Homo sapiens: one gene and its partners. The protein of the gene in region 1 purifies or fractionates together with the protein of each later gene. This does not show direct contact. Each region holds a gene or a part of one and is shown in the gene's direction. Other genes may lie near its edges.

The links.
Region 2: the proteins of TFG (region 1) and DUSP14 purify together in Homo sapiens (affinity purification with mass spectrometry; 3 studies listed by BioGRID and IntAct, with this or other methods). This does not show direct contact.
Region 3: the proteins of TFG (region 1) and SPINK5 purify together in Homo sapiens (affinity purification with mass spectrometry; 3 studies listed by BioGRID and IntAct, with this or other methods). This does not show direct contact.
Region 4: the proteins of TFG (region 1) and DSG4 purify together in Homo sapiens (affinity purification with mass spectrometry; 3 studies listed by BioGRID and IntAct, with this or other methods). This does not show direct contact.

Annotation. Positions count from the first base shown.
Region 1 is NC_000003.12:100,705,244-100,712,493, forward strand, and holds the start of TFG (protein TFG), read left to right. Parts: upstream 1-4,250; 5' UTR 4,251-4,478; exon of another isoform or gene 4,479-4,578; intron 4,579-4,682; exon of another isoform or gene 4,683-5,825; intron 5,826-7,250. UniProt on the Homo sapiens protein: Plays a role in the normal dynamic function of the endoplasmic reticulum (ER) and its associated microtubules. Required for secretory cargo traffic from the endoplasmic reticulum to the Golgi apparatus.
Region 2 is NC_000017.11:37,485,447-37,492,902, forward strand, and holds the start of DUSP14 (dual specificity protein phosphatase 14), read left to right. Parts: upstream 1-4,444; 5' UTR 4,445-4,512; intron 4,513-6,086; exon of another isoform or gene 6,087-6,181; intron 6,182-7,456. UniProt on the Homo sapiens protein: Involved in the inactivation of MAP kinases. Dephosphorylates ERK, JNK and p38 MAP-kinases. Plays a negative role in TCR signaling by dephosphorylating MAP3K7 adapter TAB1 leading to its inactivation.
Region 3 is NC_000005.10:148,058,975-148,066,996, forward strand, and holds the start of SPINK5 (serine protease inhibitor Kazal-type 5 isoform b preproprotein), read left to right. Parts: upstream 1-5,005; 5' UTR 5,006-5,070; coding exon 5,071-5,125; intron 5,126-6,372; coding exon 6,373-6,398; intron 6,399-6,432; exon of another isoform or gene 6,433-6,501; intron 6,502-8,022. UniProt on the Homo sapiens protein: Serine protease inhibitor, probably important for the anti-inflammatory and/or antimicrobial protection of mucous epithelia.
Region 4 is NC_000018.10:31,400,767-31,407,789, forward strand, and holds part of DSG4 (desmoglein-4 isoform 2 preproprotein), read left to right. Parts: intron 1-114; coding exon 115-254; intron 255-2,649; coding exon 2,650-2,868; intron 2,869-5,310; coding exon 5,311-5,607; intron 5,608-7,023.

The DNA of each region.
Region 1 (7,250 bases):
GAGTGCAGTGGCACGAACTTGGCTCACTGCAACCTCCACCTCCCAGGTTCAAGCAATTCTCCTGTCTCAGTCTCCCCAGTATCTGGAATTACAGGCGAATGTCACCATGCCCGGCTAATTGGGCCTAGGTTTCTTAAATGAGCCTAACAAAGCTACTCTTGATCAAATGAAAAGTTATATCTTCTTGCACATCTTGTGGCATTTGTATGAGTCTACTAGGGCTACCATAACAAAACACCACAGACTGGGTGGCTTAAACATCAGAAATTTATTTTCTCATAGTTCTGGAGGCTGGAAATAAAAATTTGGTAAGTTTGGTTTCTTCTGAGGGCTCTCTCCTTGGCTTGCAGAAGGCTGCCTTCTTAATGTATCTTCACATGGCCTTGCCTCTGTGTGCACCCATCTCTGGTTTCTCTCTGTGTGTCCTAATCTCCTCTTCTTATAAGGACATCAGTCATACTGAATTAGGGGCTCACCCCAATGACCTCGTTTTAACTTAATCACCTCTTTAAAGAATCCATCTCCAAATACAGTCACCTTTTGAGGTGGTTCAATATATGAATTCTGGGGGAAGGATGCAATTCAGCTCACAATTGCATTTCTCTTTCAACTTGAAATCTGACAGGTAATTTAGCAGAGAGGTAACTTAGCACTGTCTCCAGGGGATGTAAATGAAGAAAAGTGAATGATTTCAAATTACTAAGAGACAAATCCTACATGGCTAGGGAGTTAGGAACTTACCCGTTGACAGCTGATCCTTTTGTTTTTTCTGGGAGCTTGCCCTGTAAAGTGGTGGGGAACTTAGTTTTCATTATTTTATTCAATAACTATGTATTGAATGTCTAGATCAGCCTCTAGTGATACAAAATCTAGGAAGAACTGCCTTTGAGAGTAGTTTCTCTAAAGAGAGATTGGACATAGAGCATCATGGTAAGGCAAAAGCATTTTAGGGATTTCACGGATGTGAAGCTGGTAGGACAGGTTGAAGTATTTTGCTTAGCTAGTGCTAAGAATCACTCACTCAAAGGTACAAAGTAAGAAATCGTTCCTTTCTCCTTCATTATCTCTGCATAGGGTGGCAGCTTCCTATGTTCACACAAGCAAATCTTTACATTTAGCCAGTGAAGGTGAGGCTGAGCTGACTAGCTGGCTCCTGTTTGGTCCTCATGATTCCCCTTCTGTTTGGAGTTCTCTTTTTTTAGCTAGCTGCTGCCACAACAGAGCTGATTCTTGGCAAGGGACATAACTTCTCGTTGGAAATTCTCATCCAAGGAGGAATGTACACGCTTTCCTTTGTTCTTCTGAGGACATATAAGATGACTCAAATTTTCAAAATGATTTATACTAAGTACTAAAGAAGAACATGATGAAACATAGATTTTATCTAACTTGCTAACAGGGCTCATAGTCTTTGTCTCATTTCTTGTCCAGTCTGAGAATCCCGTTTTCATTCTTAGGATTTTTTCCCCCCATTCCATGTGAGGAGTTTTAGCTACACAGACTTTCAGGGAGAAAGAGCAGGTGGTAGCTAAGTTGGTTGGTTGACTCCTTCTCTTAAAATCACAGTGTAAGTCTTAACCCTTCTTCAGATGAAACATGGAAAATAACCTGTGTAGTGCAGAATCTCATATCTTTCCTTGCTACAGTCTGGGTCAAAGATATTTCCTTGCACTCCTTCTCCTTCCTTCACATATCCTCAACTTTAATATACTACCATTAAGCAGTATTTTCTTTTCTTTTTTTTCTTAGCAGTTCCTTGGAAGAAATGAGTAGTATTTTCTAGTTCAAGACTATGCTCAGTGTTCATTTAAAACCAAATTCATCTAGATGCAGAAAAGAAGGCCAGTATGTATCTACAGACATAGTAGAAGAGACCCATCTTCTTGTAAGTGAGGTAACTGGTTCAATTCAGGTTATGGCTCTGTCACTAGATATCACCTGTATTTATTGGGAGCTTAAGTACATAGATGTGCATCAGCTTCGACTTGAGAAATCACCAGAACCCCACCTCTCAAGTTCCACAGAAGTAGCTGGGAATAGGCTTTACCATAAAGAAGACTTTACTGATGGCTTCGGGATGAAGCATGAGGGAAATTACAACATAAAGAGCCTCAAGTTGCTTTCGGAGTCCATGAGCTCCATGAGCTCCAGCTTTTCCACAAGGCCAGCTTATGGGTGCCTCTCTTCCTAGCGTACAGATGACCACAGTGTAACAGGGACCAGCTTATTTCTCCTCAGTAGCAGGACTCTTGAGTGCCCCCTCACTGGGGATCCTCAGCAGATACTCTTTTCACCTTATAATAGGCCAAGGTTCACCTCCTTATCTCCTGCCTCAGGATCTGACCTCTTTTTAGTTTAAATATACTACTATAACAGTAGTATAATTCACTTCCTTCAGGGAATATTTTACCTTTGCCATATGGTTGTGGTTTTACCCCATCCCAAACCATCTTAATGACATCATAATACTATTATCTGACAGCAGTGCATCTCCCCAAATCTGTATTATTCAGTTTTAAAAAATAAGCAATGAATAACATTCTTTGGAGAGCAATTAGGAACTGTTTTTCATTTCTTCTGCAGTACTCCACTCCCTTATCCCTGCAAACAATTGCTCAAAGGTCAATACAACTGTTGGAAAATACAAATCAGAAGTGAACAGTGTAAACTTACATTATTTCACTCTCAAACAGAAGTTTCAGAGACTTATAACTGAAAAAGATCACACTACTTATGGTTGTAAAAGAACGTAGCTTCTCACCCTGAAACACCAGAATTTACTCCAGGTCCTTTAGGAGTATCTGGTGTTAAAGCAAACTAAATATGGCCTGAGAAGGACTCCATACATCTATACTTGAATCCTTGTGGATGAACTGTAACCTAGCTTAACAGACAAGATTGAAAACCTAACTTAGAAGTATGCGTCTCTTACAATAAGCGAGTCTTGGCCAATTCCAGCCGCCACACTTCAATCACTCATAGACTGCTAAGTGTTCAAATAAGGCCAACGCCAACCTGTAACCAATCCAGCTGTTTCTGTACTTCACTGCCAATTTCTGTACCTCATTTCCCTTTTTTTGTCTATAAATCTTCCACCACGTGGCTCTGCTGGAGTCTCTTAATCTGCTGTGATTCTGGGGGCTGCCCAATTCGTGAAATCGTTCACTGCTCAATTAAACTCCTTTAAATTTAATTCAGCTTAAGTTTTTCTTTTATAACTGGTAAACAACTGGAGACCAGGTAGGGTCTAAATGCTTTATTTATCAGCTTAGTCTCCACCTTAGAAGTGACAAACATTCTCCGTTTGGCCAAACTTCGGGCTCCTGGGCCTTCTCCTAGGACCATCTGTGCATCTTCTTGTAAAACTCAGTTTCAGCAAAGAACCTTGTTAAGGCAGTGTAGTGAGAATCCCTCACCCTTGATGGGGTTCCTCATCCTCCACCACCCCCAGGTGATGTCTGCTATCCTGGCCTATCTTCGTCTAGAATCCTGTTGTGTTGGTTTAGCCAGAATCTCCCTTGCCCCTGATATTTCCTCTTAGTAATTTTCCATCCACTGACCGACTTCCACCCCTTGGCTATAAATTCCTACTTACTCATACTGTATTTCTATTTGAACAGGTAAGGGAGAAGGGAAGAGTACGTAGGACACACTCAAATGCCTTATCCTCTAAAAATCACTCAGGAATCTTTAGCCTTAATTTCCCAGCTTTTGTCCTTTACACAGTTACAGATTTTCCTTGCTCATAAACGCTGTAGGTCTTCCCTGCTTAATTGGAAACTCCTTGCTCACAAAATGATTCACCCCCATTCCTAGAACCGGGCTTGGCAAAGCATAGGCTCCCAATAATGAATGAATGGATTTATAGAAGAAAAGGTTTTTTCTTTTTCAGCTGTTACTACAATGGTCAACAATAACGACAAAAACCACTTAAAGTTGGACAGACGTCTACTGCAACCAACTCTCAAAAAGTTTAGAACAGCGCACTACGCCCCGCCCATTGGCGAGAAACGGAAATACCCGCTTTCGAGAAAACCGGAAGTGCGTGGTCACGCCCCGCGCATGCGTGCATCGGGGCAGCTCACGCTTCCTAAATCCCGTCATCCAGTGAGAAAGCAGGGACTCTTCGGCCTAGGCAGCCGGGACCCAGCCAGCCCTGCGCCTCGCGCCGTCGCGCATGCGTCCTGGGTATGTCCACGCGCAATAAGGAGGGGCGAAAGGACATTTTTTTTTTTCTTGCTCCCGCCTCTGTTCTTCCCCCACCTGCCACGTACAGAGCCCAAGTTCTCGCTAGGCTTGTTGGGTCAGCGCGATTGGCCGGGGCCCGCGCGAGCCTGCGAGCGAGGTGCGGCGGTCGCGAAGGGCAACCGAGGGGGCCGTGACCACCGCCTCCCCGCGACGCCCCAGTCCAGTGGCCTCGCGTCCGCCCATTCAGCGGAGACCTGCGGAGAGGCGGCGGCCGCGGCCTCCGCAAGCCGGTATGGCCACTGGAGACGGGGGTTGCGGGCGCTCTGTCCGAGGAGGCCGGGAGACTAGGAGGCGCTGGGAGGGCCTCGTTCGAACCGCGCGGCAGCTGGGGTCGGAGGCACTGTGGGAAGGGGCTGGAGGGAGGAGGGGGTGGGAGGGAGGAGGGGGTGGGAGGGAGGACGAGGCCGGGGGGGAGGGCGGGCGGGGCCTTGCATGGGGGGAGGGGAAGGGAGGTCGCGGAGGGGGAGGGGAGAGAGGCAACCCCTGGCTGCGGTGGCCAGGAGGCGCGCCTGGGGGGCTCCGGGAGGGGAGTGCGCCAGCTAATGCCTTGGTGCAGCCTGCCTCCAAGCGTTTGGATTGAGAGGAGAGGGGCTTTGGGAGGTTTGGGGCGGCCGGCGCCCAATACCCGAAGGAGCTCGGAAGGGTGTGGAGTGGCGCCTACGGGAATAAGTTGATTGGGGTCATAGAATCGGAGCCTAGTTCCTTGGCTAAGTCAGCGCTTAATCAAGCGCCGGCTGGAGGCCCAGCCTGGTTTATAGTGATGATTCTAGCTAACTTTAAGAGTTTGCTTTGCTGGACACTACAGTAAGTATTTTGGATGCACTGTCTCATTTAATCATCACAAGGATTCCTCCAAATTCAGATATGGTTGTTTTCATTTCGAATGTGATGAAAGTGAGCCTTGGAGGACTTAAGATCACATAGCTAGTAGTGAGAATCTTTACCGTCTTGCTGCACTGCCTTTGAGGCAGGGTTTGAGGCCTCTTGGCATTCTTTAGAATAATTACAGGTTGACTTGGCTTAGTATTTCTTGAAGGAAACTGCTCCCCTCAGGAGGTGCTTAAGCCACAGCCTCTGAAATTGAGCAGGGTCTTACCCTTAGAGGTAGTAGAACCAGAAGTTTGTCCGCCGAACCTAGAACCTGGTTCAGGAGGCAGGCTTTTTATATGACCTTGGGCGTGTCAGATTATTCCCAGTGCTGAGAAAAGTGTACCTGGTAGAGGGTTATATTATACAAGTTAGAAGCCGAGTCATTTCTGGACTTCAGAGGGGGCGGGGCAAGGACAAGATGGGAGAAGAGCTTGTCGTAGGGCTCCTACTGGCAGTTCTAGGAACTAGTTAATACCAGTCTCTACTTTGGAAGAGAAAATGAGTACCAGAATTCTGTATGTGAAGTAATGTTGGGTTGGGATTTCCCCTTGAAGGGAAAGTTTTGTTGCACACTTACTTTTGAGATACTTTTGTGTTTACTCTGGGGAGATGACTGCAAGAGCAAACGACAGCTTTAGGAAAGAAGCACTGGTTCCTGGCCACAAGATGTTTACAGTCAATAGGAAACACAAAAAGTGAATTTGCAGGTAAACACGGCAGATAGAAAGTATACGTGACTCAATTTTTTTTTTTTTTTGAGACGGAGTCTGGCTCTGTCGCCCAGGCTGTAGTGCAGTGGCGTGATCCCCCAGCTCACTGCAACCTCCGCCTCCCGGGTTCAAGCGATTCTCCTGCCTCAGTCTCCTGAGTATCTGGGATTACAGGCGTGCGCCACGACAACTGGCTCATTTTTGTATTTTTAGTAGAGACAGGGTTTCACCCTGTTGATCGGTCTGGTCTTGGACTCCTGACCTCGTGATCTGCCCGCCTCGGCCTCCCAAAGTGCTGGGATTACAGGTGTGAGCCACCGTGCCCGGCCCTCAAATTTTAAATCCATTGAAATTGGGCAACAAACCCGTACCCCAGTCAGAAGGACATACCATCAATTATCTTCAAAGCTGGAATTTTTTTCTTAATTAGGAGTGTGTCTGATGGAAGTCACTTCTAGCTACATAAAGAAGGTACAGTGTGAGGGGTCGGATGTAAAAACTGATCTATATTACAGCTTTCTTCTCCCATAATTAAAAAATTTAAACAAAGTCTTTAAATTCTATATGTCAGGCACTTTTCTAGGTGCTGCTGGGAATAGATAGTACCAGCTCACTGAAGCTAAGCACTGGTTCCTTTTACATTATTGCTGGTTTACACTTCTTGTAGGAAGGAGAAGGTAACAAATACATTGATTTATTGAAAGGTCTTTATTACTCTTAGGCTGCCAGAGCAAGCAAGATGGAATATTTACCATCTTGGTGAAGTAATTATACTTTAGAGTTGGCACATAGTAGGTATTTAATAAGTAGTTCCTGAATACCGAAAGCATTGCAGAAGGCATTGCAGAAGGCGAAGAGTTGGTTGTGTGGAGATTTCTGTTAATCACTGTCTTCACGAGAAGTCCATTGTGAGAACTGGCAGATAAAAAGCTAACTGTATTCTTATTTTGCATTAAGATAAGCATGGCATCCCTAGAGTGGAATGCAGTTCACTCTGTTCTGCATTGACCTTAGAGTGTTATATTTAGTTTTAATGACCCATTTCATTGAAGATTTATTAATAAAATATCTGTTGAGAGCATGGTGAGGGGTCTAGAGATATTAATTTAAGGACTAGTTAGATGGAAGGACCTAGCGTATTTATATGAAGAATAGTAGGGCATTAATATATAATATTCATATAATAGGATTCATGAAAACTTTTTTGAAGTACTTGAAGGGTTGATATGTTGGGGGAGTAGGTGAGTGCTTTCACATACCCCGAAAGAATAAAGAATAATTGCAGAGAAGTGTGGTGTTAATGAAATAACAGATTTAAGAGGAGGAAGCAGAAAGCTGCTAGTAGTAAGGCGGGAAGTTGAAACTAGAATGTGGCCAGTAGTAGTTTGTAGGATACCTTGAAAAGTCTCAAGAGATCATTTT
Region 2 (7,456 bases), on another chromosome or scaffold:
CGCCATTCTCCTACCTCAGCCTCCTGAATAGCTGGGACTACAGGCGCCCGCCACCACGCCCGGCTTTTTTTTTTTTTTTTTTTGTATTTTTAGTAGAGACGGGGTTTCATGTTAGCCAGGATGGTCTCAATATCCTGACCTCGTGATCCGCCCGCCTCGGCCTCCCAAAGTGCTGGGATTACAGGCGTAAGCCACCGCGCCCGGCCTGAGCTCAGGAGTTTGAGACCACCCTGGGCAACATGGTGAAACCCTGTCTCTACTAAAATACAAAAAATTAGCTGGGCTTGGTGGCGCACGCCTGTGGTCCTAGCTACTCGCACCACAGCACTCCAACTTGGGCTACAGAGTGAGACTCTGTCTCAAAAAAACAAAACAAAAACAACAAAAGATTAAATGTGTTAAGGTATATAACACACCTGGTGCCTCCCTTCCTTTTCTTTTCCCACTGAGCCTTTGACATTTAGTTTCACTGCGGTCAGGTATGAGCAAGTACATGATTTTCCTGTACCACCCAATTCACATCATGCAAAAGTCTCACAGAGAGGGACATGAAGATCTGCAAGAACAAATGTTAAAACAGACAGATGTGCATTTTACAAGGATGTTGTTTATCTTGAAATTCTCATCACTGCATCATTGCTACTGCCCAAGGGTTGAATTAAGGGCAAAACATTTCAGAGACAGATTTGAAATTACCTAATTATCCTAGACATGTTGTAATGTTCCCTTTTATAATGCCTGGCTCAAAAAGCTTGATGTCAGGTTACAGAACTGTATGCATTCTTTGATTGTAATTGTGTTAACAATAGTAAAAAATCTTGCATACAATCAAGACCAGAAAGAAATCCAGATGCTAATTGTTGTTTTGTTAAGTAATAAAATGGTGGTAAGCAATGCTTTTTCTCTTTTTGCTTTTTTTTCTTTTTCTTATCTGTAATGTGACAATTCTTTATTACTTGGAAAGTACATTTTATGAGAACTGTGAAAACTCGGAAAGTAGAAGTTCAAAGTATTTTACATTTAATAACATCTAGCTAATCCTTATGATATCTAGATAAGGTGCTACTTTACATCTTATGAAATAGCACAAGCCTTAGGCAAACTTCTGTAGTAGAAGAAATGTGTTCTGAGACTTCTGAGACTTCTATCTTGCTAGTTTTTAAGATATCTTTTCTCCCAGAAACCTGGTGTCCAGTGTCCCTCTCAAATCTGCCAAAGGACAGTAGCTTAAAGATTTACTTATCTCAGGGGAGTTGCATTTTTATAGCCATCAATGGCATATAATTTGGAATTAGAGGCACAGGCAAGCAGGCCTTCCGAATCTCTGTGAGCCACAAGACCCGATGGCACCCTGAAATCAAACTTCTGTAGACTGGGAGCCTTGTTGACCGCTGTTCCCCAATTCTGACAGATCAAAGCTGTTGCTAATTTGTTAACCAGAGGCAGTGATACAAATGGAAGATGCAACTATTCATTCTGAGGGACGCATAAAAGTCTGATTAATCTAAGGAGCAGTCATTGCCCAAGCAGTTAAGGAGAATATTTTTGGAAAGGCAGACATCAGAAGCTAAGCAGAGTACAAATTTCCACCCTCTACTTACTGTATTAATCATATCAGCTCTCACTCTTCGTAGATGCTGCCCTGCTCGAAAGCACTGGTTATTTAGCTGGGAGTCAGGAGAACCCAAACCCTCCCTGGGCATAGACAAATTGTAATTTTATAGCAGACAGCCTCTAAAATGTTTCTACATCCACAACAGTTGACACTGCCAGGCGCAGTGGCTCATGCCTCTAATCCCAGCACTATGGGAGGCTGAGGTGGGAGGATTGTTTGAGCTTAGGAGTTCGAGACCAGGCTGGGCAACATATTATTTAAAGAGACTAGGTCTCTTTAGTAATAACAAGGCCAGGTGCGGTGGCTCACGTCTATAACCTCAGGGGGCATCACCTGAGGTCGGGAGTTCAAGACCAGCCTGACCAACGTAGAGAAACCCTGTCTCTACTAAAAACACAAAATTAGCCAGGCGTGGTGGTGCGTGCCTGTAATCCCAGCTACTCGGGAGGCTGAGGCAGGAGAATCACTTGAACCCGGGAGGCGGAGGTTGCGCTGGGCCGAGATCGTGCCATTGCACTCCAGCCCAGGCAACAAGAGCGAAACTCCGTCCCCCCCAAAATAATAAAAACTAATTAGCCAGGCGTGGTGGCGTGCCTGTAGTCCCAGCTACTTGGGAAGCTGAAGTGGGAGGACCACCTGAGCCCGGGAAGTGGAGGCTTCAGTGAGCCATGATTGCACCACTGCACTCCATCCTGAAGCCTATCTTAAAAAAAAAAGAAGAAAAAGTGACACCTATAAAAAAACTCACATACTTATAGTCCAGAAATGTGCTGTCCAGTAAGGTAGCCACTAGCCACATGTGGCTATCTAAATTTACTAAAATAAAATTTTAAATTCACTTCCTTAGTTACACTAGCCATATTTCGTGTTCAGTAGCAACATGAGGCTAGTGGCTACTGTACTGGAGAGTGGAGATACAGAACATGTCCATCATCACACAAAGTTCTACTGGACAGTGCTGGTCCAGAAGAGAATAACTTCAAATTGCATTTTTGGTACAGGCATGTATAAGCCCGCACTTCCACATTCTGTAAAGGCATAAACCGCCTCCCTACCCCAGGGCATGTCTGTACAGTCATTAAATGGTCTGACTCCAGCACTTCTTTCTACTTAATCTCTAAATCTCTAAATCTTGACACGCACATCGCACACAACACAAACTCTATTTTAGCCCACCTCCCTCTTCACTGACTCTTCATGGTAGGTTTAGTTCCCATAATCCATGAAAATGCCTAGCTCCTTGTCACTAGAGCTTGTTTTGGAAACCTGCCTACAGTGTAACAAGCTGGAATGTGAAGAGGGATGCATCTATTTGTGTTGCTGAGTCATTGAATTGACTGAAGCTTCAAGGACTAGGGGGTGCTGAGCAGAAATGAAAACACACAATCCTTTCTGTTAGAGATTTGCTCTTTTCGTATTGGCATGTAAACAAGTAAGTCACTAAGTGAACTGACGTCACAATTTAGTTTTAGGAAGATGCTTTTCCCAGGCACGATTTGAACTCAGTGGTTTCCTGAATCTAGCAAAGTATGCTGCTTTGTTTTCTCTTAGATTAATTTTGCCTAATTTTAAAGCTTTGATTCTCTTTTTACGAAGACGAAAATAAATCTCTCTAGTCTGGGCCTTTTTCGTTTCCCAGGATTATGATTAAAATTATCACTAACTTTTAGATAGTCCAGCACGCACCGGATGACTCTGAAGCCGGTTGGGCAGTGGAGATCGGGAAGAACATGAAAAAGCTTCAAAGCTTTTGGTTGAGGACATCGGGAGATGTAAACCCCAAACGCGGGTTTTACTTCTCCCCTCCACCCCTCCCCGCAAACCCATGCCTACTCGTTTTGACTGCTCAGCAATTCTGAGGCCAACCATTTGCAACGGCGAGGAGCAGGGGCTGGTGAGTCAAGGACTGGGCATGGAGTCAGGACTCTTAGGTGCCTTGACTCACGGCAGAGCCTTGAGGAAGTCGCTTTGCCTCCCACGTGTCTCCCTTCACCTGCCAGAGGCGGAGGGGAGGCGGGGCTGTGCTGGAAAACGTCCGTTTCGCACCGACTTATGTTACAGATGGGCAGACCTGAATTTTAAAAGACCCTCAGAGTCACACAGCAAATGAGCCCTCAAATGCCCGTGTCCCGCCTGCGCTCCGGAGAACCCCTGCCCTGCCTCGGGGACTCGGGAGGTGGGTGTGGGCTCCGAGACTCGGACGGCACCTTGGCGTGGCGAGAGCAGGTGGAGATGCGCACGGAGGTTGCATGTTCACCTCCGGGTCTCGGGCGCCACGGCTGCCCGTACCTGTTCCAGCAAGCGTCAGCCAGGAACTGCCGCGCTACTGATTTTCCCTTCGCTCTTGGGTCCCAACCCCCGGGCTCTCCGGGCTAGGGAGGCGGTGGGGTGGGGTCGAGGCCGTCCCGAGCCACCCGCGGCGGCTTCACACCTGTATCGGATTTGCTTTCTCGCCTTTAATCCTCTCCAATCCCGAAAGCACCCCAGCAGAGCGCCCCCGCAGCCCGCCTCGAGCCCGGCTCATACGCAGACGCTGACTGGGGAAGCGAGGGGTCGCCGGTGTGTGAGGCAGGGTAAGAGACCAGGGGACCTGCACGGAGGAGCGCTCTAGGGGAGGCTGCTGCCTCGGGAGCTAGGGCGCGCCCGGACCACACCGCACGGCGCAGAAGCCCAGCGCGCACGCGCGCCGCCTGCCGCCCCGCGCGTCCCCCCGCCCCGCGTCGCGTCCCCCCACCTCGGGAGAGGGCGGCCAGGCGCAGGGAGCGTGCGCGCGGCCCGCCCCGGGCGCGGGCGGAGGGAGGAGGAGGCGGCGCGCGCGGCGCCCAGCCCGCAGAAGCCGGTGGCCGCGCAGGAGGACGGAGCCCTAACCGCAACCCGCTCCGCGCCGCGCCGCGCCGGTAGGGGACCCGCAGGCCCGGGGGTGGGGGTTGTGGGGAAGGTGTTGGGGTGGGGCGGGAGGGCGGGACTTCGCGCTTCGGGTCCCTGGGCGCAGGGGGACCCAGAGGCCCGCGCGACCCCGCCTCTGGAAACTTTGTGCCGGCGCCCCCACCTGCTCCCTGGCGGTCCTTGACTCTTCGGGGCGGCCCGCGGAGGAGAGGCCCGAGACCTTCCGCAGCGCACCCTCGCCGGCCCTGAGCGTGCGCCCCCTGCCGCTCCCCCGCCGCGCCGCGCCGCCCCCGCGACCCTGTCCCTGTGCCCCGGGGCTCCAGCAGCCTCGGCCGCGCCTCCTCCGTCGCCTTCCGACCCCGCTGAGGCCGCCTACTCTCGCTGGCATCCACCCGCTCTGGAGCGCGCCGCCGCTTTTTGCATCTCCCCGAGGTTTCTGGTGCATGGATAGAAGCAACTTGACTTTCAGCGATGCCAAGTGTCCAACTTGAGTCTTTCTCTGCGGTGGTAGATGGGTGTGCGCGGTGCTAACATCTGTCTTTTTATTTCTCCTAAGTACCCTTGCTCCGGAGCGAAGTTGAGTTGTTGTTTGTAAAGAGGGGGTGCGTGCTGTGGCCGCCTTAAGTGGATTGTATAACTGTATTTTATTTAGGTGGATGTTGCCAGTGGTACCAGCCAGTGTTATGGTAACTGGGCATCCCAGAGGCTAGGGAAGGAGGAGCGACTTACAAATGCAGTTTTACCATGCAGAGATTTTTTTTTTTTAAAACCACCTTGTACTTTCTATCCAGCAGGACCTCCGGACATTTAGTGTGTGTTAACTCGTTAGCTGTTCATTATCGTTTTATAAGAGAGGGGGGTGGAGAGCGTTACCATCCCGTTTTACAGATGTAAAAACGGAGGCGAAGAGCAAACTCCGGGTATCCTTAGTAACCTTAAAAGAATAGGGACCAAGAGATTTAACCCAGAGTCTCCTGGAATTCCTAGTCCCTAAGGCCACTCAGAAGTATGATGGAATGTTGGACCGTCCTCCCTGACATTCTACAGATCACTTAAGAGTCAGAGAGGCCGAGGCCAGCCGGCAGCTCCATGCCTGAGACTCAGCTCTGCCACAAAGTTAAGTAACACTGGACAAGTCACAGTTTCTCTCCGCTCATTTCCTTCCTGCTCTCTAAAACCAGGGGAACAAAGGTGCTGTATTCTTTGCAGAGTTGTGCGTGTGTCTGGAAGCTCCACTCCCTTGAGCTGCGATTTGGTTATTGTTAGTTGTTGTGGACTCATAAAGGCCCCCAGTCTTGGTTCCCTTGAGAAATGCAGGGAAGGAGGCACCCCCACAGTGAACGCCTCTTCTTCGCCAGAGACGCCTGAGAATTCACATCAGGGACACTTCACATCAGGGACAGGCCGGGGCAGAGACCCTGACCTGAGGGAGGGACGAGGGTTGCCACGAGGAGGTAGGAAGGAGCCCTGCACAGGAGGCTTGACACATGGGCCCTATTCCTGCCTCCAGCTCTGACTCATCTTCTGACGCTTGGGGGAGGAGAGGTAGTTGCTTGGTATTTTTGGCTTTCCACCATAAAACTGGAGACAGTTTCCTTCATTCCAAGTCGTTTTAATGTCACTGTTGAACGTGTGTGTCCTGAGTTCTCATCTGAAAGCTTTCATATCGGTTGACTGCAGGTATGAATTCTGTAATAATAATTAATAGAATGGCATAAATGTATATTCATATCATAAAAGACTAGCCAAGTATGTAAGTCCAGGAAATCCTTTAATACTTTAACATTTTTAAAAAGTGGGCTTTAGGGAGGGCTATGTTTGATGGGTTCCTTTGCAATTGGGATTTTAAGGCAAAATGGATTAAAAATGCTTTTCCCAAAATCACAAGAAATACATTAACCATTCTCTGTGAGATTTAAACTTTACTAATAAGGTTAAAGCTTTCTTTTGAACCTCTTCCTCAAAAGTAACTGCCGAGTGCATCTTGATCGGTTTGTGTATATCTTTTTAGACTTTTCTAAGCATTTTTATAAATGTCCGTTTGCACAAAGTGGTTTTTTAACCGAAATTAATTATTTTAAAGTTGACTTGTCCTGTTTATAAAGATTTGGCTTCTGTCAAGAACAAGTAATGTGTTTAAGTACAACTGTTGGTAAAGTTTTAATAATCCTGATAGACGGTGTTACTTCCCAGGGCAAGGGGCAAATTACCCCTTTTAAACAACTTCAAAGTAGTAGAATCATTACGATCCTAGGTTTTACTCTTAGGTGCTGAATAAAACTTTCCTATTTAAAAAAAAAATCTAGGACTACTAGCCTATTGTCTTGTCTTTGCTTATAAAGAAACGTCAAAGGGAGTGGAAGACAGGGAGAGTTGCTAAAGCAACCAAGGCCTGGGTATAAACTTACAGAGCTAACATTTAAGATGGCTTTATTATTTATGAAAGCTTCACTTCACCTGGGTGAAGACAAAGGAAAGTGTTAATGTGGGCACCCTTCAAACCGGTAATTTCAGGAAATGGATGGGTTAAAACAAAATTCATGTCAGGATTCTGTGGATTTATATATTATACATTTACCGAGGACTTTTACCATGCTAAAGGTGCTGTGCCTGAATACAGAGGAAGAAGGCAAGTAAGGTCGGTCTCTGACCTTATGAAGCTGACAGGCAAATAGTGACATTCAGAGAGAGTTGGCCAGAATTGTTGTCATGGTTCTGAATTCCCAGAAATCAACATTAGATTTATTGAATTGTGAATTATGTAAAAAAGTGTCTAAAACAAATGGATAATTTGATGGATTATTTTAACGAAAACATAAGTGTAACTGTCTTGCAGGTCAAGAATCTGACTCCACACTCTCTCCCTCCCCCAGAGGTCCTAGCCAGAAACTACCCTGACTTTTATGGAAATCATTTCCTTCTTTTCTATAGTTTTTATCCCCTAAATATAAATCC
Region 3 (8,022 bases), on another chromosome or scaffold:
GAGCCACCACATCCGGCCGGTAGACTCTTAGGTACTTCAGGATTAATTTGTTATGATTTATTGAAAGACTGTAGCTCCTCAAACCTCTGTTTTCTATTGTCAGGATAAATCCTAGGAGACTTTAAAATGCACTAAATTTTTGAGTGATAAACAGTGTGGGGCCATGGGTCAGGGGTTCAAGTAATATCAGCTATAGGGAGAAGCTGATTGTTGTTTCTAAAATAAAATATAACCCATATGAAAATATTAATACAATTAAAAATTAGACATTGAAATTCCTGTCTTCTTAATCCTAATCTAATAAAAGCAGTAATTATGTCTGTAAATAGCAGGGTCTATATACTCAGTAAACAAACAATGCCCATCCCATTCTATTATTAGATAAAATGAGAGGCTTATCTCTAGTTTCTTAGTCTTTCCAGACAAACAGAAAGGAATTCCTACAGAGAGAGTGAAGTTAGTTGGTAATGCAACATTACCAGATAAGAAGATGAGTAAAGGCTGTTTTCCAGTTAGTGTCTTTTACAAAGGAGAATATAGGCCGGGCGCGGTGGCTCATGCCTGTAATCCCAGCAGTTTGGAAGGCCAAGGCGGGTGGATCACGAGTTCAGGAGATACGAGACCATCCTGGCTAACACGGTGAAACCCTGTCTCTCCTAAAAATACAAAAAAAAAAAAAAAAAAAAAAAAATTAGCCAGGCACGGTGGTGGGCGCCTGTAGTCCCAGCTATTCCGGGAGGCTGAGGCAGGAGAATGGCATGAACGCTGGAGGCGGAGCTTGCAGTAAGCCGAAATTGCACCACTACACTCCAGCCTGGGGGACAGAGTGAGATTCCGCCTCAAAACAAACAAACAAACAGGAGAATATAGACATGTTAGATTGATGGGGGAAAATATTAGAATTATAGAAAAGAAAATAAAAAAATAAAAAAGAAATTATTTCATCTTTTAAGATATATTAGAATATATAAATTTTACTCATGGTCACAACATACCTCTTTTTGCCCAAGTGATTGTGTATGTGTGTCTGTGTGTGTGTGCATGCATAGGGCTGTATCTAGTTTAAAGCACTGTAACGTCTGGATTCTCTTTTTTTTTTTGAGATGGAGTCTCGCTGTCTCCCAGGCTGGAGTGAAGTGGCGCGATCTCGGCTCACTGCAAGCTCCGCCTCCCGGGTTCACGCCATTCTCCTGCCTCAGCCTCCGGAGTAGCTGGGACTACAGGCGCCCTCTGCCACGCCCGGCTAATTTTTATGTTTTCGGATTTTTAGTGGAGACGGGGTTTCACCATGTTAGCCAGGATGGTCTCGATCTGGATTCTCTTTGAACGGTATAAAAGTCTGTGAGATGGCCGTGGGGAAACTCAGAGAAATTAAAGGTATAAAATGTAAGAAAGTGTCAAGGCTGAGATGACCATCCCAGCTAGTTCCTACTGCAGGTTTCTTTTATGACACCAATTTTGGCTGGTAAAGAAAAGATAATAACACCTAATTGGCTGCCTCACAACACTGCATAAACAAATCAAAAGAGCTAATGAATGGCAGGTTGTTTTGAAAGCTGTGGAAGGTGATCTAATCATAAAAGACTATAGTTATTTATTAACTATTATCGTCATCAAGGCTCCCTCTGTGTAGAAAAACAGAAGACTTTAGGAATGATATGGTAACTTTATATTTTGGAAATAACCTTTGTTTGTAGTAACATTACTGATCTACAACAATCTTTATAATTTTCTCATTTCCTCCCCCTGTATCAGTATCCTTCAGATTCTGCCAACCTCATAAATGCGTAAGGTTGTAAAATTCATAGTTTTTATTATCTAAGCCCACTCATTTCTAATGAGAGGAAAAAAGTTTCTACATGTTTGATGAATAATTGAAAGAGTTAAAAACAAGGATGATATTTTGAGTTAGAAGAATACCTTGATAACCTAACTCTGACCCAAACCTGAGTTCTCCAAACCTTCAATCCCATTCATTTAAATGTAATATTCATGGTGATTTTCAGGAATGAGGAGTAATTAACAGAGCATGTGATGAATCACCTCTGGCTTTACAACATTCCTAAAATGAAATGGAGAAGAAGCCCTAATGAAATGAGCCAGCTGATGAGTACTTCCAATTTTGGGGGTGCTCACTGAATCTTCTTTTTACTACTTTCTCCATTTGGAAAAGATATCAGTTTCAAACTTTTTATTCATCATTTCAGAAAAGGCTGGCATCTCTGAGGAGCTCTTTTCCAGTAAGAAGGAAACCAATGTCTTCAATGTTTCCTCATAGTAGAGATTCCTAAGACAGGCAATCATCTTTTGGTTCTTCTGTTCCACCCTAGCACCACTTCCACTCCTGGGAATATTCTCCATTTGGGCTAGGCTAGGGGTCACTAGAGCATAATACACAGTCATTGATTCCATTTTAAGGCATCAAACTCTTTTACCGTCAATAACAGAATATATGGTTGGGACACATTTCGTATGGTCTGACAGGGCAGATGAAAGATAAAAAATTAGTATTGATATGTGAATATTTAGAAGAGGCTTTTAGAGAAAGAGACAAGAAATCAATGCTGATTGAAACAGAGCAATGGTTTTCGTTAAGTTTTAACAGGTGATGTTTCGATTTGTTTAGGCATTATGGTTTAAAATACAATTAAAAGGGAAAAAGAGAACATATATCGTTATAGTTTAATTTCACCTCAAATTGTGTTGGGGTAGTTTTTCTATGCTGAGTAAATATAAATCTATTGGTGAAATCCACAGTCAACAGATGTTTACTTTTCTTGGTATCTTAGAAATTATCTAGTACAACCACGTTATTATAATTATGTAAAAATGCAAGACCAGCTATCATTAACTATCAAGCTTATCACATAAACTTGATAATTGTTCTAAGCACCTCTCTCTCTCACACACACACAAACACACACGCATTATATATATGATTTATCTCTAAACCTCTTAGCACTAGTACAATGTACGTGTTATTATTTTTATTTTACATATTAGGAAACTGAGGCTTAGAGAAAATAAGTGACTTGTCCAAGGCAACATGGCTAACAATTCAAGATTTGGACCCATTTCTAGCTTGCTTCAAAGCTGGGTTCATTTCTATCCCTACATAGTTGAAAAGACTACATAGAATAGAAACAGATTTCTGAAACCCTGTCTCATTCTCTTTCCATTAAGCTATGATGGACTTTGATTTTCTAACCTGTAACAATAATGGAATTTGAACTTGCTTTCCGTGGTCACTAATTTTACTATTCCATTGGAAAGGAGCCAAGCTACAACAATAGTGCAGACCTTGAAACCAATGATTTTATATATATATATATATGTGTGTGTATATATATGTATGTGTGTGTGTGTGTGTGTGTGTGTGTGTGTGTGTATATCTTTTTTTTTTTTGATGGAGTTTTGCTCTGTCGCTGAGGCTGGAGTGCAGTGGCGCCATCTCAACTCACACACCCTCCGCCTCCCGGGTTCAAGCAATTCCCCTGCCTCAGCCTCCAGAGTAGCTGGGACTACAGGTGCGTACCACCAAGCCCATCTAATTTTTGTATTTTAATAGAGATGGGGTTTCACCATCTTGGCCAGGATGGTCTCGATCTCCTGACCTCATGATCCGCCAGCCTTGGCCTCCCAAAGTGCTGGGATTACAGGCGTGATACACTGTGCCTGGCCCAGTGATTATATTTTTATAGGAAATAAATTATTTCATGAGAGAAAAAAGAAAGGACGTATTATCTCACTGTGATAAATCTCATAATATTGGCATACTCCCTAAGTTGGGCAACTTTGATCAGTTTTCTGGAACCATCATAAAAAGGCCTTTAATTGGATAAAGTCTCGAACTTTTCTTCTGTGGATGTGAATATCTTGAGAAGTACTGGAATGAAACAATTTGGCTCTGGTTTCAGTCATCTTCACATGTTTCTTCAGGTGCTTTCTTAAGCTATTAGGGCAAAATAAGCTGGTAGAAAAAAGGTGTTACTTGTAGGATGAAAGAAGCAACTAAAGAGAAGAAACTTTCTCTAGAAAAATGTTACATTTACACATTTATAATTGTTAACAACTTTTTTCTTCTTTTCTTTTTGGGAGACTAAATAATGGGATGATACAGGAAGAAATATGATTTAGAGAAAACTGATTGAGCCAAATTTTTCAAACGGTAATATGGGTAATCATAGGCTATGGAAAGTTAAACTGAGTCTCCAATGTTTATGATTATGATGTTTGGCTAGGATATAAAATAAGGCTTCAGAATATAAAATATCCTGCAGATTGAGAAGTTTTAAAAGTAGTTACATACAAGTTTTATTTTTCCAACGTTCCTGCCTTTTCTAATGTCTAAGGATGAAGCAGTGTACAGAGAGGAAAGAATGTTATATGTGTGGTCTGCTTGCAAGTGCTGGATGCCTCCTCTGCCTGCTCCAACTAAACTGTCTGCTTATGAGAAAGTCATTGCTCCTCTGAGTTCCTGCCTCCCTATATATTCAACATTAGAATTTTGCCAGGTTATCTTTTAGGGTCGTTCAACTCTAACATATATATGAGTCTGTGACACTGAACTCAGACACTTCAGAACAGGAACCCTGGATTTCTCTGGATGTGGAAATCTTTAAATCTATACCTGACTGGTAGGACAACCAATCTGTCTTCCTTTCCTCTCCTCTCCCACTTATGAAGGGAGTCCAGTCAGAAACATGTTTGTCTACGAGGTAGTATATCTGGTATTTCTGAGGAATTCGGTTATTATATAGGATTATAGAATATTCAACTTTGAGTAGGGTCTGTGGACTCCATCAATTGCGTTCTGGGGGAGGTACCATGAAAGAACATTCCTACTTTAGAAATAGATATTCTCTGTTCAAACCTGACACCCTGACAGGATCCTAAAGGATGGAAGCTAAAGTGGTGTGGTATATAAGTCCCATGACCTTGAACAACTGGTTTTATGTGGGTGTCACCAGTGCTTTATAAAAGTAAACTGCATCGCCCCGAGTTCAGTCATACTGCACCAGCTGAGCAATGCATGGAGTGGACCTGTAGGCGACTTGCATCGTCTTCAACATGAAGATAGCCACAGTGTCAGTGCTTCTGCCCTTGGCTCTTTGCCTCATACAAGGTGAGCAATTTGTGTGTAATCTAAGCCTCTTGCCACACATCTCAAAGCCCTGGGGAAGGGACTTTTCTCCCCCTACTCCTGCCAAAAAATGTTTACGTATGCATGTATAATCCTGAAATGTCTTGCCAGACACAGAGTTCTGAAGATTTATATATGTGGCTTTATAATTATGTTGTTATCTTTAGAAATGGCAAGTAGTTTGAGATAATCTGAATTTTCTAACCATGAGAAATTCTTCCATTAATTCTTTATTAATTCAGAAAACTGAATAGATTCTTCTTCATCTTCCTCTTGCTAAATGTATCAATTCATAATGCATATTCTTATATATGTAATAGACATTTAAAACTTAATTGTAAATAATATATGTATTTTAATGTTATAGGTATAAATGAAATATTTTTTAAAATTCAATCATCTGTTCTTATTTTAAAGCAGTGGTATCTTCTAGCTTATTTTAGTCTTGTGTTTTCAAATGCTAAATGGGTTGAAAGCATTTCTCCCAAAGAGTGAGGGACTTTTGTGGGAGCTGGAAGGTAGATTTTTATATTTGCTATTTAACCCTAAGAGAACACAAATTGCCTAGACTTACGTTGCTCTGAAACATTAAAATTTTTAAAAAGAGAAACTCATAGATAGTCTGAAATCATATACAAATAATGCCCATTTTCCTAAAATAGGTGTGTAGGTACAAAAGAGCCTATGTTAATGAGAGAGTATAATAGCCTGTGACCTTAATCTTACCTTCTGTCAGATCTCTAACTTTTGCAGCTGTAATAAGGAGGTAGAGCTGCCAGAATTCAGAAAATTAAATTTTATGTATATATCCTATAAATGTAATGCTATATTATAGTTTCAACTATAATATAGTTTCAAAATTATAATTGGTATAGTATTTTGTGTGTATGTTATATTGTAATTTTAAAAGGGAGGCTGGCATTTATTACTCCGAAAGGACCTTTTGAAGATAAGCTATTTTGATGGGGTTAGAATTCACATGAGTATTATTTTCCAAAGTAATTGTAACTTTCTGAGTGATTAGACCTTTGTGAGTATATATACTAATCTCCTGGTCCAGTGCCCTTCTTTTATTTGCCATGATAAATCTTAATGTGTTCAAAAACCATTTGCGGTTTTACAACATATTGTCATTAAAGCAATCAAGATGCTGCATTAAATGGATTATTTGTTTTGTTTATTAAATATTTTACATTTCCTTAACTTTGGTTTCTATATTTTCATCCCAGATGCTGCCAGTAAGAATGAAGATCAGGTTAGTCCTGCTTTTTCTGTTCATTGAATTCATTCCAAGATTCCCAAAGAAAAGTGGTTTGTGGCCAACACCTTCATGTTAATAATACAAACATATTATACTGGTAGGTACTAATAGCTTTTGTTAAAAACACAGAAACAGATTTTTATGAATCAGGACATGAGCCTCTCTCTCACACACACACACACACACACACACACTCAACATATTAATGATGATGGATGTCTGCAAGAGGCAATTTATCATGTTAAAGGAGCATTTTAAAATTTCATAAACAAAAAATAAATCAACTGGAAAACTACTATTGTTCCATTTAACATCTCAACAAGCCATGATACACCACATAGGAAGCTGAAATAAATTTTCTAGTAATCATTATGCAAAAGAGGGTGGTCTGTATCTTGTATATAGTCGGTGTATATAGTTCATGTAATGAATATTTATTGAGCATCTCTTAGATGTCAGACCCTGTTTGAGATGCTGGGGTTATTTTTAAGTAAACAAAATAGATGAAATTCCTGCCCTGAAAATTACGTTTTAGTGTAGGAAAACAGACAAATTAATAAGTAGCTTAGCAAAACATATGGTACGTTAAATAATGATAAATGCTAGGAGAAAAATAAATCAGGAGGCATAATAGGATCCCTGAGAATGGAGGTGGTATCCATTCTCATAAGGATAATCAGGGAAGTTCTCTCTGGACAGACAGTATTAGAATAGGAATCTGAAGGTCATAAGGGAATGAACCACGAAGGTATTTGCAGTTTACAGCAGGCCAGACAGAAGCACCTGTGAGCGCAGAGGCCCTGACGCAAGAAGGTGCTTTACCAACTCTTAAACCTCTTTTGTTTGATAAATTAAAAAATCATTTTCTACTAGAAGTTAAATTTTTTAATCTATTTGAAAGATAGGATGACCAATTACTCACACACACACATTTTATATATTTATATACACACACACTGCTATGCATGCTATTAATTCAGCACTTAAAGCACAATCTTAAATGTTTTGCTGAATATGTGGCAAAATTTGTTTTATCTCTGGCCACGAACATTAAAGGAATAAAAATGTGAAACAGCTATTCTTTACGTTGAAACTCTGAGAACCATGGTTAAAATACTCTCTTGCCGTATTTTGTTGCAATGATTTTTTTTAAAGAAACTTCTTACATGAGTGTTCTAGAGAATTTTATCATGTTCTCTACTATTTCATCTAAGTTTACTGATAGGGAGAGGTCCAGAAAGTTCAGTAGAGTAGAAAATAAGCTAGACATTTGGGAATCAGAGAGCATGCTCACTTGGAAGTTTTATACTGGGAAAAAAGAAGGATATTATATAAATATCATTGTGTATAAAACCATCATTTTCTTTTTCAGAGTCCGTGATGATGGTTGGTGATTTATGGCAGATACTGTGAATTTTACACTGCTATTTTTCATAGCATTAACCTCTATTTCACTGAAAAATATTTTAAAAACAAATTTAGTGACTTCTTATATTTGGTATTAAAGGCAAGAACACAAAGAAGTAATTATTTATTTGGAAGCCTTTCTAATCAGAGTTTTTGGATACTGTGTCAGAAATGAAAACTATTGATGTAGTCTTTTTTACGATGCTGTGAT
Region 4 (7,023 bases), on another chromosome or scaffold:
CACTATAAAACATAAAAACACAATATTAAAGTTTGCCACATTGTAGCTGTTACATGATTTAAAAGTACTAACTTTCATAAAAGCATGATAACGAACTTTTTTATTTAAAAACAGATATATCATAGGGCATGATGCAGGCAGCTGGTTAAAAATTGATTCAAGAACTGGTGAGATACAATTTTCTAGAGAATTTGATAAGAAGTCAAAATATATTATCAATGGGATATACACAGCAGAGATCCTGGCTATAGATGGTAAGAAAATTTATTTTCAGTATTTTAAGAAAACTAGTACTATTATATTAAATATTATGTTATTCTAATGCTGATATTTGAGTGACTCAGACATTTTTAATGGTGTATGCAAGACTTATGGAAAGCCCTAAACACCTTAAATCAAGAATTGAAGTCAATTAAAATCATAATTTACACTGAAGCCATAGTTTATTTCATCTACTTCCAAAACTGAGTTGTATATGGCTTACAGCATAAAAGTTAAAATATAATTCATCTTCTGATTATGACTTTGTCTCTTGAGTATGGCTAATCTCACTTGTAGGGTATGTTGGGAATGTTTACTTAAAGTAAGGGCTACGTGCTCTACAAAGTTCATTTGGGGATCACCTTGTGGGAAAGCAATGTCTCCAAGAATACAATTATTTTAGATCCATTAAAACTGAACTACAGTGAGAAGCTTGTGTGAGTGTTGCTTGATTAGACATATTTCCATAGTAAGATGCTATGGACCAAGAAAGCACAGATTATTCCAAATATAAGATCCATATTAAAAGTCATAAATACAGATGCACTGACTTAACTTGTAAGCGAGCCACCTCTCACATGGGTAAATCTGTTAAGCAGTCCTCTTGGTGAGCAGCAACAGGATTTGTTTATTTATCAATAGTTAATGATTCTATGAAGCAGTGCCTAGGAAACCAGCTGCTGTAGAACCAAACAAGAGACAAAGGTCAGGAACCACGAAGGAAGGGGAAAGACAGGCGTCCAAGATACATGCCTAATGTAAGACAGATACTGTAGGTTTGCATTGAGTTTATAGCTGACCTTTCCAGTATCAAAACAAAAATAAAGATAAAGAAGCAGCATAAAATTCAAAAAGAAACCATGATAAAACCAAACCAACTATCATCTGTACATCCTGGGCTTCATCCTGTGGCGGGTAAATTTTAACGCCTGGGTCAGTTTTATAAATAACATTGTCTTATTCATTATCAGTATTCTGGAAGCTCTAATTTGAAAATGGATTCTAACCATGTTGATTGCACCCTATGTTTGCATATTGGTCATATGTGAAAAATCTTCAAATGCTAGAATAAATAATTAGTCATTCCAAGCAAATAAAGAGAGAGAAAGTGCTGTCAAAATGTACCAAGAGAAACCCAGAAACAAAGCTGATTGTTTATTCACCTAAGCAGAGTGTCTGCACTGGCACAGAGCTATCTGAATGGTTGGAATAAGTTTGCTTCAGCACACACCATCATCAGGTGAAGAGACAGACCTCTATGCAGAGCAAACTTTACTGGGAAGCAAACACTATAAGCAATAGCTTGAGCTTTGGTTGCCAATCACAAGGTAATAGAAGAGCTACCAAAGATCAAAGAATGACAAATAAAACAATCTGTGGAATAATCTGATGCCTCTCGAATGAGAAGCTAAGTGAAATCGACATCCTTCATCTAGTAAAAACAAGTCCAATGCTGAATAGGGTATATAAACATATTATACAAAATCATATAGACTATAGGTAGGCTCTCAGTTTATTCTCATTCAGTTACCTCAATGACTACTACTTAGGCACACAGAAAACATCTGTAAAAGGAATTTATTGCTTTCTCAGAAAAGGACCTAGTAAGGTACCCCAGAGACGACAACGTTCTAGTTTAAAAGCGAGAAAGCTAAGATTCTTTTCAAGTTAAAAAGAAGCAAAAAAAATTCCGTATTCGCTGTAACAGAACATAGAGTAGAAAAGTGGACTAAAAAGCTCCTGGACTCCTAATCTTTAGTCTTTGGCCCTTTCTGATTAATTATACTATCCAAAAACTTGTTTCAAGTGGATTAGGGAAAAATCTAATAGACTTATATTTGTTTTCAGAAATGCCATTTCAGAAAGAAATAGCATGTAACAGATGCAATTAAAATAAACAGTGAGCACACAAGAAAAACACAAACAAGTATTTATTTCAGCTGTGGTTATTTCTACAAACACAGGACTCAGTGAGCATCCTGAATGGAGGTTCATAACTGACCTGGGGGTCTAATTTATGGGAACAGGGTGAGATTAGAAACCAGTAAACCTTCTCGGAGGAAGAACATTTGATTTTGCGCCTTAGGATGTGTCAGAATTAGCAAAATGAAATGAGGGTGGAAAACATTTTAGGAAGGGTGAAAAGAATGTGCCAGAGTCCAGAGTAAAAAAGAAACTTGTTTAAAGAACTCAAAAGAAGCAGTGTGGCTGGAAGGTAGCACACAAAGGGAAGAGTGACTTTGGGTCACTGAAGCGGGCAGGAACCTGTCAAGCCTCCCAAGTCACGTATATGTTTCCTACAAGTTCCATGGCATCATCAGGGGATATGAGAAAGAGTTTTCTCCCTAACACCATTTACCTCAACACCAATGACCCTTACTCTTTCAGATGGCTCTGGAAAAACAGCTACAGGAACCATATGTATTGAGGTTCCTGATATCAATGATTATTGTCCAAACATTTTTCCTGAAAGAAGAACCATCTGCATTGACTCTCCATCAGTCCTTATCTCTGTTAATGAACATTCTTATGGGTCTCCGTTTACTTTCTGTGTTGTTGATGAGCCACCAGGAATAGCTGACATGTGGGATGTCAGATCAACAAATGGTAAGTGAAACGTAAGCTTGTTTTTTGGACTTTAAGTCCAAAAGCAAAACAATTACCAAAAAATGTGGCAAGTCACTTAATAAAACATTCTACTTCTGTTTCCACAGTTCTTGCCATATTAACATTAAATGAAAAAAATATTTCATGTACACAGAGGATATTTGATAAAATTTTGAACTGAAATGAAATGAGTCAAAATGTTTCATTAATATTTAATTTACAAATAGTAGTGGATAAATACCAGTTTACCCATCATTTTGAGTAGGTAAAACGTTGAACCAATATTTATTCAGTTTAAAATAAACAGAACCCTTAACAAACTCATAAATTAAGAATGTCACAATTCCCTATTCTGAATAAATTCAGACAAATCACATAAATGTCTCTGAAACTCATATATCCCATAGATACATTTAAACATTTACTACTCACTTAGGAGCACATAAAATCAATTAAATTGTTTTTTACAGTAACTATGAGTTCAGACTTATTTTTAAGGGTAAAAATTTAAATCCAAATTGCTCAGTATTAGAGGAATGATTAAACAGAGTACATATTATTAAGATGTGTTAATATACAGCCATTAAAATTAGAATTATGCAAAGTATGTAGATACAAAAGAATGCATAAACCAAAGAAAGTAAAGTGAAAAACAGATCACGAAGTTGTATATGTATGTATCTTGACTATAACTACATACAATTGAATGGCTGACATCGATAAAAATTAAGAATAAATTTCAGATAACATAACATTTTATCTACCTTGCGTTCTTTTTCCTAAAACGTTAAGTGCATAATAAAAAAGAAAATGCTATGAGAGGATCTCATATGGGCTAAGATAGCTCCCCAATCTCATATTCATTTGGGGCTACAGGGAAAATTTCATGGGCTAGTCGGTGGCCATCAGACTACAGAGCCCAGGGTGAGAGGAAATACTTCCCACCTCTTTAAGGTCACCAAGCCCCTCTATTTACAGAATGGAGAAACCCTAAAATAAGGTGGGGAAAATACCACCAATAAAGTAAGAAATTAGGCAATTTGTTTTTACCATCAAACCTTTAGCTCTTTTCAACAAAACCACTTTAATATTTTTTAAAGTTAATCATGTTAAAGCAATTCCATTAATATCAAGTCAACTCTGAATTCACCATCTCCTATAAAGCTCAATAGCCCATTCATAAACAATAATAATTGCTAACCACTTTTTTCCTCATTCGGATCCTAGATATTATGATTACACATGTAAGAAAAAATGTTCTGCATGGAGGTATAATATTATAGCTATTACAGGTTTGCCAATAAAAAATATAACCACACTGGAGATGATATTCCTAGAGACCTGTTTCAATGCTTGCTGGTGTTTTAGAACAGAATGAATTTCACTTAATGTGCTGTGGCATTGCCTTATCTCATTTTTACCTTGTGCACAGGTTAGATTTTGGTGGACATAGCTGGCTTGCCATCTAGCTAACTGAGGATAATAAACCATCATAATAAAAAATATTGTGTGCTATGGATCAATCAGTTACTATTCATGGTTTAGCTGTAAATTTAATCATCTCAACACTCCTTGTATTAATAAATAAATTCCAATGAATATTTTAGACAATATGTTTTATGAAAATTCATAGGCAATGATAGCACAAAGAATTAGGAGAATGTGAACAATTTTAAATGAAAGGGCAACAATTTTGAGTAAGATACATATAAACAGTCTTAAGGAGGGTATTGTGTAAACTGTAATCCTAAATAGAAGACTTCTAATATTTTCTTTCAGCTCAATATTATTTATTCATTGGGCAAATATTTATTGAATGTATATTATATGCCAATTACTGTTGCTCTGGAAAGATGCAGCAAGGTCCTTGCCTGCATTATAGAAGTAGCAATCCAGCAGTAAGCAATACTTATTTAAAAATTAGTTATAAATGTTAAAAAAAAAAAGAAAGAAAGAAAAGTAAAAAAGGCCAGGCAGAATGGCTCATGCTTGTAATCCAAGCACTTTAAGAGGCCAAGGCAGGTGGATTGCTGGAGCCCAGGAGTTCAAGACCACCCTGGGCAATATGGCAAAACCCTGTCTCTACTAAATGTATATATATTAGCCAGGCATGGTGCCACACACCTGTAGTCCCAGCTTCTCAGGAGACTGAGGTGGGAGAATCACTTAAACCTAGGAATCCAAGGCTGCAGTGAGTCATGTTCGTGCCACTGCACTCCAGCCTGGGCAATAGGAATGAGACTCTGTCTCAAAAATAACAAGAATAATAATAATAATAATAAATTAAATAAATGTTAAAAAAAAGTACAAGGTGCTTTATGACTAAGAAAGCATGAAAAATCTAGTGTTTTAAGTCAATATTTGGTATTAGGGAGAGTTAACCACCCCCCTAGCCCACCAAGGAATTTCCATTTATTTTCTGTTTCCTCTCTTCCATTTCAGCTACCTCGGCAATCCTTACGGCTAAGCAGGTTTTATCTCCAGGATTTTATGAAATCCCAATCCTGGTGAAGGACAGCTATAACAGAGCATGTGAATTGGCACAAATGGTGCAGTTATATGCCTGTGATTGCGATGACAACCACATGTGCCTGGACTCTGGTGCCGCGGGCATCTACACAGAGGACATAACTGGTGACACGTATGGGCCTGTCACTGAAGACCAAGCTGGAGTTTCAAATGTTGGTCTTGGACCAGCAGGGATTGGCATGATGGTTCTGGGCATCCTGCTACTGATTTGTAAGTACTCAATTAAATCCTTCTTTTCAATAGTTCTTCAAAATAGGGCTGTTACGAGGCTCGCTGGGATGGTTAGGTTCATGGAGCCATTTCTTTTTGGTATCTCTAGCAATTTTTGAGTGCCTTAGAAATAAACAATGGGACTGACAAATATATGCGCTTAATCCACAATGATAACTAAGAAAGCCTAGGGTGAGTGACAGTCCTAAAAATGGGAAACACATGCAAATCACTACATATACTACCTAAAAGCACAAAACAAATCCCATCATGGAAATTTCCTTAAAATGCTTTAAGAGTAGAGAGGCAGAAGCAATTAAGTCCATGTGGAAAAGTTAGGACAATCTTTTGGAAAAGTGGATTTTGAGGTGAGCCTGAAAAGCTGAGGATTTTTTTTTTCTTTTTTTCTTTTTCTTTTTTTTGAGATGGAATCTTGCTCTATTGCCCAGGCTGGAGTGCAGTGGCGCAACCTCGGCTCACTGCAACTTCTGCCTCCCAGGTTCAAATGATTCTCCTGCCTCAGCCTCCCGAGTAGCTGGGACTACAGGCGCCCACCACCACGACTGGCTAATTTTTGTACTTTTAGTAGAGACGGGGTTTCACCATGATAGCCAGGATGGTCTTGAACTCCTGACCTCGTGGTCCACCTGCCTTGGGCTCCCAAAGTGCTGGGATTACAGGCATGAGCCACTGCACCCTGCTGAGGATTTCTTTTAAAGGAGGATGATGTCTAAGGAAATTTGAAAGGTAATCAAACACACACACACAAAAAAAAACCACACACACAAACAAAAGGGAGCAAGATATGGAAGAGCATAGCACACCTAGGAAGCAGAGAGGCAAAAGGGAGTCTGGGAGCCAGCATGGAGGCATGTTCATGACACACCAGGCATTCTGGGCTTCAGTACAATGGCACAGAAGAGTTGATGAGGGCTGATGAGCGCAGGTGACCCTGCGGTAGGAAGCAAGTAGAAGAGACTAGAACAGAGAATTAGCCTCTGGGCTCTGGGTGAGTGCCTAAACTAAGACTGGTCACAGAAGTGGAAAGATCACCAAACAAAAATTTCCCAAAAAGGGCCCTCCTTTCCCCATAGAGTTTTTTTAAACATATAGATCCTCAGAGGAAGAATACTTCATACATTTTAGGTTGCCCTTGCAATATTTAGGTTTCATGGGGATCAAAAGCTGGGTTCTAAAATTAAAGAGAAGTAAATTTGTCAAACTGTATTGTTGCTGTTTTCAGGGATGAGCACTAATTAAAATGTAATCATTTCAAGGCATAAAAAATAACAGCTGACTTTTGGTGAGGATTTCTTTTTTGAAATAATCTGTGAGGTTTCAAAGCTATGCAAAGATCATGAGTGATTCTCACAATGATATTAGACACATTTTCCCAGAATATAACTCTACAGCAAT